2 separate regions of the Homo sapiens genome follow, and region 1 is linked to region 2. Evidence: fine-mapped expression QTL. A gene starts in region 2. The other region holds a variant in brackets. All regions are shown on one strand. Distances are between the middles of the regions. Region 1 overlaps CECR7 (cat eye syndrome chromosome region, candidate 7). Region 2 holds the start of IL17RA (interleukin 17 receptor A).

The links. PIP is the estimated chance that this variant, and not a neighbour inherited with it, causes the effect.
Region 1: its variant is the best candidate, but not a certain one, in a credible set for the expression of IL17RA in whole blood (INTERVAL, PIP 0.64).

The regions. Positions count from the first base shown.
Region 1 is chr22:17,046,820-17,051,206 of GRCh38, reverse strand. It overlaps CECR7 (cat eye syndrome chromosome region, candidate 7), which reads right to left. Exons shown (of 4, transcript NR_152826.1): 3 at 3,781-3,883. Among named protein-coding and RNA genes, the nearest start is that of CECR7, 12 kb to the right of the region's middle. The variant A/G (reference allele first, on the strand shown) is at 2,283.
Region 2 is chr22:17,082,795-17,087,164 of GRCh38, reverse strand. IL17RA (interleukin 17 receptor A) reads right to left here and starts at 2,165. Exons shown (of 13, transcript NM_014339.7): 1 at 1,936-2,165. The coding sequence starts at 2,073. RefSeq lists silencers at 1,383-1,632, 1,673-1,772, 2,023-2,142, 2,163-2,382 and an enhancer at 2,936-3,105.

The DNA.
Region 1 (4,387 bases), 36 kb after region 2:
AGCTGGTCTTGAACTGTGCTTTTGACATTGCATCTAAGACATCAGTGCCTTACACAAGATCACAAGGATTTACTCCTGTGTTTTTTTCTAAGAGTTTTATAGTTTTAGTTTTTACATTTAGGTCTGTGATCCATTTTCAGTTAATTTTTGTGTATGGTGTTAGGCAGAGACCCAAATTAATTTATTTGCACATGAATATCCAATTGCCCCACCACCATTTGTTGAAAAGACTATTCATGGTTGGACATAGTGGATCATACCTGTAATCCCAGCACTTTGGGAGACCAAGGCAGGAGTATTGCTTGACTCCAGGAGTTTAAGATAAGCTTGGGCAACATGGTGAGACATGTGTCTCTACAAAATGAAAAACAACAAAAAAAGAAAAGACTATTCCTTTCCAAATGAAGTTTCTTGACCCCTTTGTCAAATCAATTGACTTTAAATGTAATGGTTTCTTTCCGGGATTTCAATTATTTTTCAGTTAATCAATTCATTTTTTTTCGAGACAGGGTCTTATTGTGTTGCCCAGTCTGGAGTGCAGTGGTGTGATCATAGCTCACTGCAGCCTCAAACTCCTGAGCTCAATTCATCCTCCTGCCTCAGTCTCTTAAGTAGCTGGGACGACAAGTGTGTGCCACCATACCTGGCTAATTTTTTTTTTTTCTTTTTGAGACAGAGTCTCCCTCCATCACCCAGGCTGGAGTGCAGTGGTGTGATCTCAGCTCACTGCAACCTCTGCCTCCCAGGTTCTAAGTGATTCTCCTGCCTCAGCCTCTGGAGTAGCTGGTGTTACAGGCACACACCACCACGCCTGGCTAATTTTGTATTTTTAGTAGAGACAGGGTTTTGCCATGTTGGCCAGGCTGGTCTCGAACTCCTGACCTCAGGTGATCCACCCACTTCAGCCTCCCAAAGTACTGGGATTACACCACACCCAGCCATAGTTTTAAATTTAATTTAATTTAATTTTCATAGTTACAGAGTCTTGTTATGTTGCCCAGGCTGGTGTCAAACTCCTGGTTTCAAGGGATCCTCTCTCCTTGGCCCTTTAAAGTTTTGGGATTACAGGCATAAGACACCACACTTGGCTTTATTTTCTTTTACAGATACGTTTTCTCTCTCTTCCCCAGGTTGGAGTGTAGTAGCCAATCATAGCTCACTGCATTCTCAGATTCCTAGGCTCAAGAGATCCTCCCACCTCAGCTTCCTGACTAGATGGGACAGCAGGCCTATACCACCATGCCTGGCTAATCAAATTTGTCTTTAATTTTTATTTTTTTAGACAGGTCTCACTGTCTATGTTGCCCAAGCTGGTCTTGAATTCCTGACCTCAAAGGATCCCCCAACCTCAGCCTCCCAAAGTGCTGCAATTACAGGCATGAGTGCCCAGCCTGAGCTTTCAACTATATTCCAGTGACCTATACATCTGTCCTTAAGACAGTACCATACCCTCTTGATTACTTTGTAGCAAGTTTTGAAATTAGGAAGATAAGTCCTCCAATCTTGTTCTTCTTTTTCAGGATTATTTTGCTTATTCTGTGTCCTTTGCATATCCATATGAATTTTAGGATCACCTTGTCAATTTCTGCAGAAAAGGTAGCTGGGATTTTGATAGGAATCAGGTTGATCCTGTAGACTAATTTGATGAGTACTGACAATAATATTTAGTCTTCTGATCCATGAACATGGAATATCTTTCATTTATTTAGTTCTTTTTTAGTTTCTTTCCACAGTGAGTACTTTATTCTTTGGGATGCTATTGTGAATGGAATAATTTTCTGAATTTCATTTTTGGATTTCTCATTGCTAGTGTACAGAAATACAATTGATTTTTGTATGCTGATTTTGTGAACTTGCTGAACTAGTTCTAGTTTTGTTTTTTTTTTAAACTGGATACCTTAGGATTTTCTGTATACAAGATCATGACATTTGGGAGTAAGACAGTTTTACTTTTTCCTTTCTAATCTGGATCCTTTTATATATCAATCGCCTAATCATCCTGGTCAGAACCAAGGCTGCATAGACCTGCTGAACATGGCCATCCTTGTCTTGTTCCCAATCTTAGGGGAAAGCATTCAGTCTTGCACCATTAAATCTGTTAACTGTTAGGTTTTCACAGATGCTTTTCATCATGCTGATGAAGTTCCCTCCTGTTTCTAGTTTGTTGAGGGTTTTTTTCCATGCATGGGTAGATAATTTCACTCTCATTTACAGAAAAGGAAACTGTCATTCAGGCAGTCTGCCTTCAAAGATCAAGCCCTGGATCACAGTGCTATCTCTAC[A/G]GCACACTCTTCCATTTAATTTTCCCTCTGGCCCTCCTCCGAATTCTCTCTTTCAGCTCACTTGGGAATGTTGGTGTTCTCCAGGAATCTCAGCTCTTTGCTCATGTGCTTCTCTCCTGAAGTGGGAGAATGGCTTCAGCTGTCACCTGCAAGCTGATGACTCCACACTCCCTATCTTCTTGCCCTCACTGAGCTCTGGTGTGGCCTCATGCTTCCAAGACTTTTCCACTCAGATATGTCAAGAAATCTCAAACCCATCCTGTCCTAGAATGCCCTGTTATCCCTCTCCACTCAAGAAGGCTCCTCTGACTCTATTTTCAATATTGGATGCTTCTGCCATTTGTCCTGTTCCAGCCTGAAACCTGGCCGTGATCCCACATGTTTCCCTCTCCTTGGCTCCTCCTCTCACCTTTTCTAATTGGTGGCCAAGTTCTACCTATGTTCTTTCTTCACCTGCACTGGTACTGCCTTGCTCCTGCCTCCAGTCTCATTCTCCTCAAATTCACCCTCCAGGTAACCAACGGAGTGATTTATCTGAATTACACGTCCTCTGATACTTAGCCCTTCACCAGTTCCCTATTCCCACAGCATGGGAACCAAGGCCTTTTCTCATCTGTTCCATTTCATACACTAGGAACTTCCACCAAAGACTGAAGTCACTAAATGCACTTTCTCATGTCAGTTTTAAGAGCTGTATGCTACTTTCGTCATTTGGAGACATTAGAAATTATGTTACTAGTTCAACTTTACTGTCTTTTGCATGTCATGTTGTCTCATGCCTCAGTGCTTCTTGTTTACTCTGTTGTCTTTTTTTAATATATTAAACTTATTTAAATAGAAACAGGGTTCTTGCTGTGTTGCTCAGGCTGGTCTCAAATTCCTGGGCTCAACTGATCATCCTGCCTCAGCCTCTCAAAGTGCTGGGATTACAGGTGTGAGGCACCAAGCCCAGCCCTGTCTTGTTTTGAGAGGTTCTTCCTCTTTCCACATCATCCCCTCTATTCCTTTACATCTTGAAAATGCCTACTCACTAGGCCCTCCTCTTTGAACCTCCTCCTAACTCTTGCAGAGTTAATTATGCCCTCCTCTGTGTTATTTCACAACATTGCATGTGCTTGTAATATCGCATGGGCTGTCCTATAAGTATTTGTCATTTTCTTACTCTCCTGAGTTCAGCATTTATACTAGATTTATCTTAAACACTCTTATAAATTGCCAGCATATAGAAAGTGCTTAAGAAATATTTGTTGTAATCACCTGAATTAGGATTTATCTATGTCTCCTTGCTTTTAATAGATCATTTTCTAATTTGTCAGTTTAAATACATTTTTAAGAGAACACCCCATCCCTAAGCCAAATTGCTTCTTATGCAGAAAAAAAAGCCACTACTGTGAGTCTCCAAGCTTCCCCCTGCACAGCCACCCTAGGAGACATGGGGCAGGAGTACTGGGAACTGACCCCTTCCATCTGCCCTCACTTAGCTTCCTCGGGTACTTACATGGGGCTGTCACTGACTTTACATGCTGCTGCAGCTCCTTAGTCAGCTGGTCCTTGTCATGGGACAGAAACTGTGGGGTCAGGACAATCAATGCCTTCACCACCTGCAGAACGAGGGCAGAGGCTCATGATGAGTGTCAACCTATTACATAGCATAAAAAGTCAGTATTTATTGAATGAGTGGAAAAACAAGGTGACGTTGGACCCTACAGTAGTTTTGGAAAATAAGAGGACCAGGTGCAAATGCCTGTACTTCCAATGTCCACTCCATGCCTTGAAAAGTTACTTGACCTCTCCTTAACCTCAGTTTCCTTCTCTGTGAAATGGGAATAATAAAGATTCCATTCCTCATTTGGTTTCTTTAAAGCTTCCATGAGATAATACATATAAAACATCCAGGTAGTTTACATTATTATCCCTGTCATCAGTACTTTCATCATTATTTTTACTATTATTATATATACCACCCTGTGCCTGTAACCCAATGGGTATTTGATAATTATTGACAATTTATTATTCATATATTAGTAGTGTTATCCCCATTTTATTGTACAAGGCCTTGCATATAGAAGGTGCTCAATAAACACTTTTTAATAAACAAATGCACG
Region 2 (4,370 bases):
TGTGTTTTCTTTCTTTTTAAAAGAACTAGTCAATGGAGCCCAGAGCTGTCTATCTCTGGAGAAGAGCTGTCTGTGAGGCAGGTGTATACAGAAGAGAGAGAGAGGAAGGAAGAGAACGAGAGACTGCAGACAAATATGAACAGCAAGTGTCTCTCTTCAGCCCTCCCTGGAGCCAGGCCGTGCTTCTGCTCCTGACTTACAGTTGCTTCACTGTGCAGTGAAAGTCAGAGCTTGGCTCCCACGCCACGCACAGCAGAGTCCCATCCCCGCTTCTGGCATCTTTTCTCACTGTCCTATTACACAGACCCTCCATTCCGGCCACACACCGTACCCTGTCCCACTTAAGGACCTTGGCTCAGGCCCTTTCCACCACCTGGAATGCTCCTGCTACCCCCACAGGGCTGCCCAAATGCCTTTTCCATGAAGGACACCCCAACTGGAAGCAATTTTTCTTTTTCCTGGAATTCCGTACACTTAGCAGTTGTGCAAGCAGCTTTGCTAGACAGTTCCCTAACTTCAAGCCTTGTTCCTCCCGTAGATGGGTTAGGTCTCTGGATATTAGGGTCCCCAGAGTATTTATTTATAGTTCCAGTTCCCAGTATGGCGCCCTGTACTCTGCAGGCACCTGACCAATGGCTGTCAACCCAGGCGCACCAACCCTCCATATCAGAACGCTTCATACACAGCCTGCAGGAGGGACTAGCAGGGCAGAGGGACCTGCTTTGCCCAATAGTGGAAGTCACAGGACATTTCTCAACATCATTCACGATAAAAACATCTTTTTTTTTTTTTCTGCGACATAGTCACTCACCCTCCACCTTCTTTCGGTAAATCCTCCATAAAACTACATAAGGAGAAATATCCCTTTGTTTTACATCCTCTGACTCAGATACTGAGCATTATTCCTTGGGGTCAGCGGTGGAGGTGGAGGTGGAGGTGGAGGGGAGGAAAGATCCCCTCGGGGATGCGGGGAAGAGGAGAGTATATTGTGGAGGGGCACGGCGTTTTGCTCTTTTTTTGTTTTTTTCCTTAAGATGGTCCTGGCTCACAGAAAGGCCACTACCCGGCAGGCGGGTGGGTCACTTCCTGTGGGCGCAGCGGGGCTACGACTTGACAGCTACAAACGTTCGACCCTCCGACTGCGCTCTCACCGGGTTCCCAGACCCAGGTGGTGGTAGTCGGGGGTGGGAGTGGCGGGAAGGGCGCCGTCTTAAGAACCATCTGCCCATCCTCAGGGCTTCGCGCCTCTGGGGAGGTGGCCCTCAGCCGCCCTCGGCAGAGCTCTCCCCGAAACATGGTGCCGCGTCTCAGCGCTCCGGCCCCCGCGTGGCTCTACGACAGCGGGGTCCCTCTGGGGGCCGCGGGTGAGGGACTCCACCTTCCGCACGGACGACGTGGGCTCGCCCGGCTCCGTCGGCGGCATGAAGGGCACGGCTTGAGGGAAGCTCCCGAGGGCGCGATGGGCCTCCCGAGGGCCGACCGTGCCCCGCCGGGGTACGTGAGGGGCGCAAGGCGTGGAGCTGGGTCCAGACCCGTCCTGGCTCCTCCCCGGGCCCCTTCTCCACAGCCCCTTTCTATCAGCCCTGGCCGCCCCTCCGGCCTGGCCCAGCGCCGCGCCCTCCTTCCCCGAACTCCGCGGCCCGGGCGGAGGTGTCACTCCCGCCTCCAGTCACGACGGCGGGCCAGGTTGTGCAACACGCGCCGCGCGATGTGCCACCCACCCCCCCCGTATTCCACACCGCAACTCCCACCGCTCCGAGGGTCCTCCCCAGGCGCCGCGATATCTGTGCCCAAGGCTCTGAGCCCCTCTAAGCCCGCGGCGCGGACTTCCTGCCTCCCCAGCCCGGGCGCGTAGTCCCGACCGTCCGGCCCTCCGCGACCTTGCCCCGCGTCCGCAGCATCCTGGCGGCTACCGCTCCCCACGTCGAGTCTCACCGGCTGGGAGCAGACCAGCGCCCGGTGGTCCAGGAGTCGCAGGGAGGCGCCACCCGGGGCCAGCACGCCCAGGAGCAGCAGGAGCAGCCCCAGCAGGGGCCCCGGGACAGCGGACGGCGGGCTGCGTGCGGCCCCCATGGCCCGGCTGGCGTCGCGGAGGGCTCGGCCCCGGCTGGGGACGCAGCGAACGAACGTTCTGAGGCTTTCTTTTCCGCGGTGGAGTTCGAGTCGGCTCCACTTTGCTCGCTTCCGGCTTCCAGCCCGGGCCCAGGGGCGGGCCGGGCCGAGGGGAGGAGTTTAGTCTGGGACGGGGAGGGGTTTAGGGTGAGACAGGGCCCTCCCCCCGTTCCTCCTTGCGCCCCTCCTCTCGGCCCTACGCTCAGTCCTCCGGGCGTCCCTACCCAGTCCTTCCGGCGTCCCTCCCCGGCCCTCCTCCGCCCGCGCGCCCCAGGTGCGCTCCTCCCGCTGCTCCTGGGCCTGGCCCGTCGCGCCTCCAGTTGCACCCGCGTCGGGCTAGCGTCAACTCCAGCTGGAGCCTCGCCTGCCCCACATGCACCCTCCACCCTGGCCGTGCCGCAGCAACTGTCGATTTTAATCCTCCGCCCCCACTCACTTGATTCTTGGCCCTGTTCAGACTTCTTGCTTCTCTTGTGGGTCACTGGACGTGAAATCCCAACTTGGGATTTCAGGAAGTCCGTTTTCTTAGTCTCTGTCCCTTTTATTTTTGTTTTTTATTTTACTTTATTTTTAGACAGGGTCTCCCTCTGTCTCCCAGGCTGGAGTGCAGTGGTGCAACCGCAGCTCACTGCAGCTTCGGCCTCCCGGGCTCAAGCGATCCTCCTGCCTCTGCCTCCTGAGTAGATGGAAGCGCGGGCCATATCCCATTTTATTGTCCCCACCCCTTTGCCTGGTTCTGCTCGCTCTGCTTTCCTTGGCTTTGCTTTCTCTTTCTCAAGACAAGGACAGCTCCGGGCTCCAGGGAGGATGGGACAGCAGTCACTTCCAGCCTCCTGGCTCGGACTCGGGGACACTTGAGTTCCTGGAGGGCAGGCAACTTACCTGGTCTGTGAGACTGTGTCCCAGCCGCACCTAAGAGAGTCGTTACTTCCCAGAGGCTCACTCCACGGCCGCGGAAGCTGTCGCCAGCGAATTACACATTTCATGAGTCTCCTTCTTAGCACGCGTGCAGCCTGCGTCCTCTCCTCTCCGGACCCTGGAGGACCCTCCCAAGCCGGCCCGCGCTGCCTCTATCCTAGGTTCCTGCTTCGAGCCCGTCCTGCCCTAGTGCATCCACACGCTCCTGCCCATTCGCCTCTCCTCTCTTCCTCCCAAGACCACCACCGTCCGCTTTTCCTTGCCTATCAAGTGCGCCTCTGCCTGGCCTTGACACGCACGGAGTCTACACTCAAGTGGCTTTTCCCTGTATTTTCCACTGCCCTCGAGAGGTGGGTTTTTTCGCTGCCCGAAGCACCCGCTGACCCCCAGCGACATCTCTATGAGCCCCGCCCGCAGACACGACCCAGCTGAATGAAGCCTGAAGCTCAGTGGCCTTCAAATTGTCTGTTTCTAAAAGAATTTTGGAAAACTGCATCCTCTCATGCATTTTAAAGATGACATCTAAAATTCTCCATCCTAAGTCTAAATAGATGTAGAGGATGTAACTGTTACTTAAAAATCAGCGGTTGTCGTAGGCAGCTTCTAAGATGTGTTCTAGGATCCCACCCCCTGGGAGTCACGACCTTCTGAATCCTCCTCGCGGAGTGTGGGATGGACCCAGAGGCTTGGTTCTAACAATAGAATATGAATAGAAGAAGACAAAAATGATGGGATGTCACTTACAAGATTAAGTTACAAAAAGATCCTGACTTCTGTCTTGCCCAGCCCCTCCCTCTGAGCTCCTAGCTCTTAGGGAAGCCATGCTGGGGCCCAAGTGGCAGAGAATGAGAAAGGCCTCTGCCCAGTGCAAGACACTGAGATCTTCATTTCATCATTGCCATTATTAGTACATAATTGATAAAAAATAATGTAAATATAATACATGTTAATAAGTAATTAAACATGAATTACTTGAAATTCATTTTATTCCTAATTAGTTGATGTATCTGTGAACAAATATTGCTTATTCATAGAACAAAGCAACATTCAGCATTTAAGAAATATTTTATTTTTCTTCTTTTTTTTTTTTTCTTTTTGAGATGGAGTCTTGCTCTGTCATCCAGGCCGGAGTGCAGTGGCGTGATCTCGGCTCACTGCAAGCTCCGCCTCCCGGGTTCAGTCCATTCTCCTGCCTCAGCCTCCCGAGTAGCTGGGACTACAGGCACCTGCCACCACGCCCGGCTAATTTTTTGTATTTTTAGTAGAGACGGGGTTTCACCGTGTTAGCCAGGATGGTCTTGATCTCCTGACCTCATGATCCGCCCGCCTCGGCCTCCCAA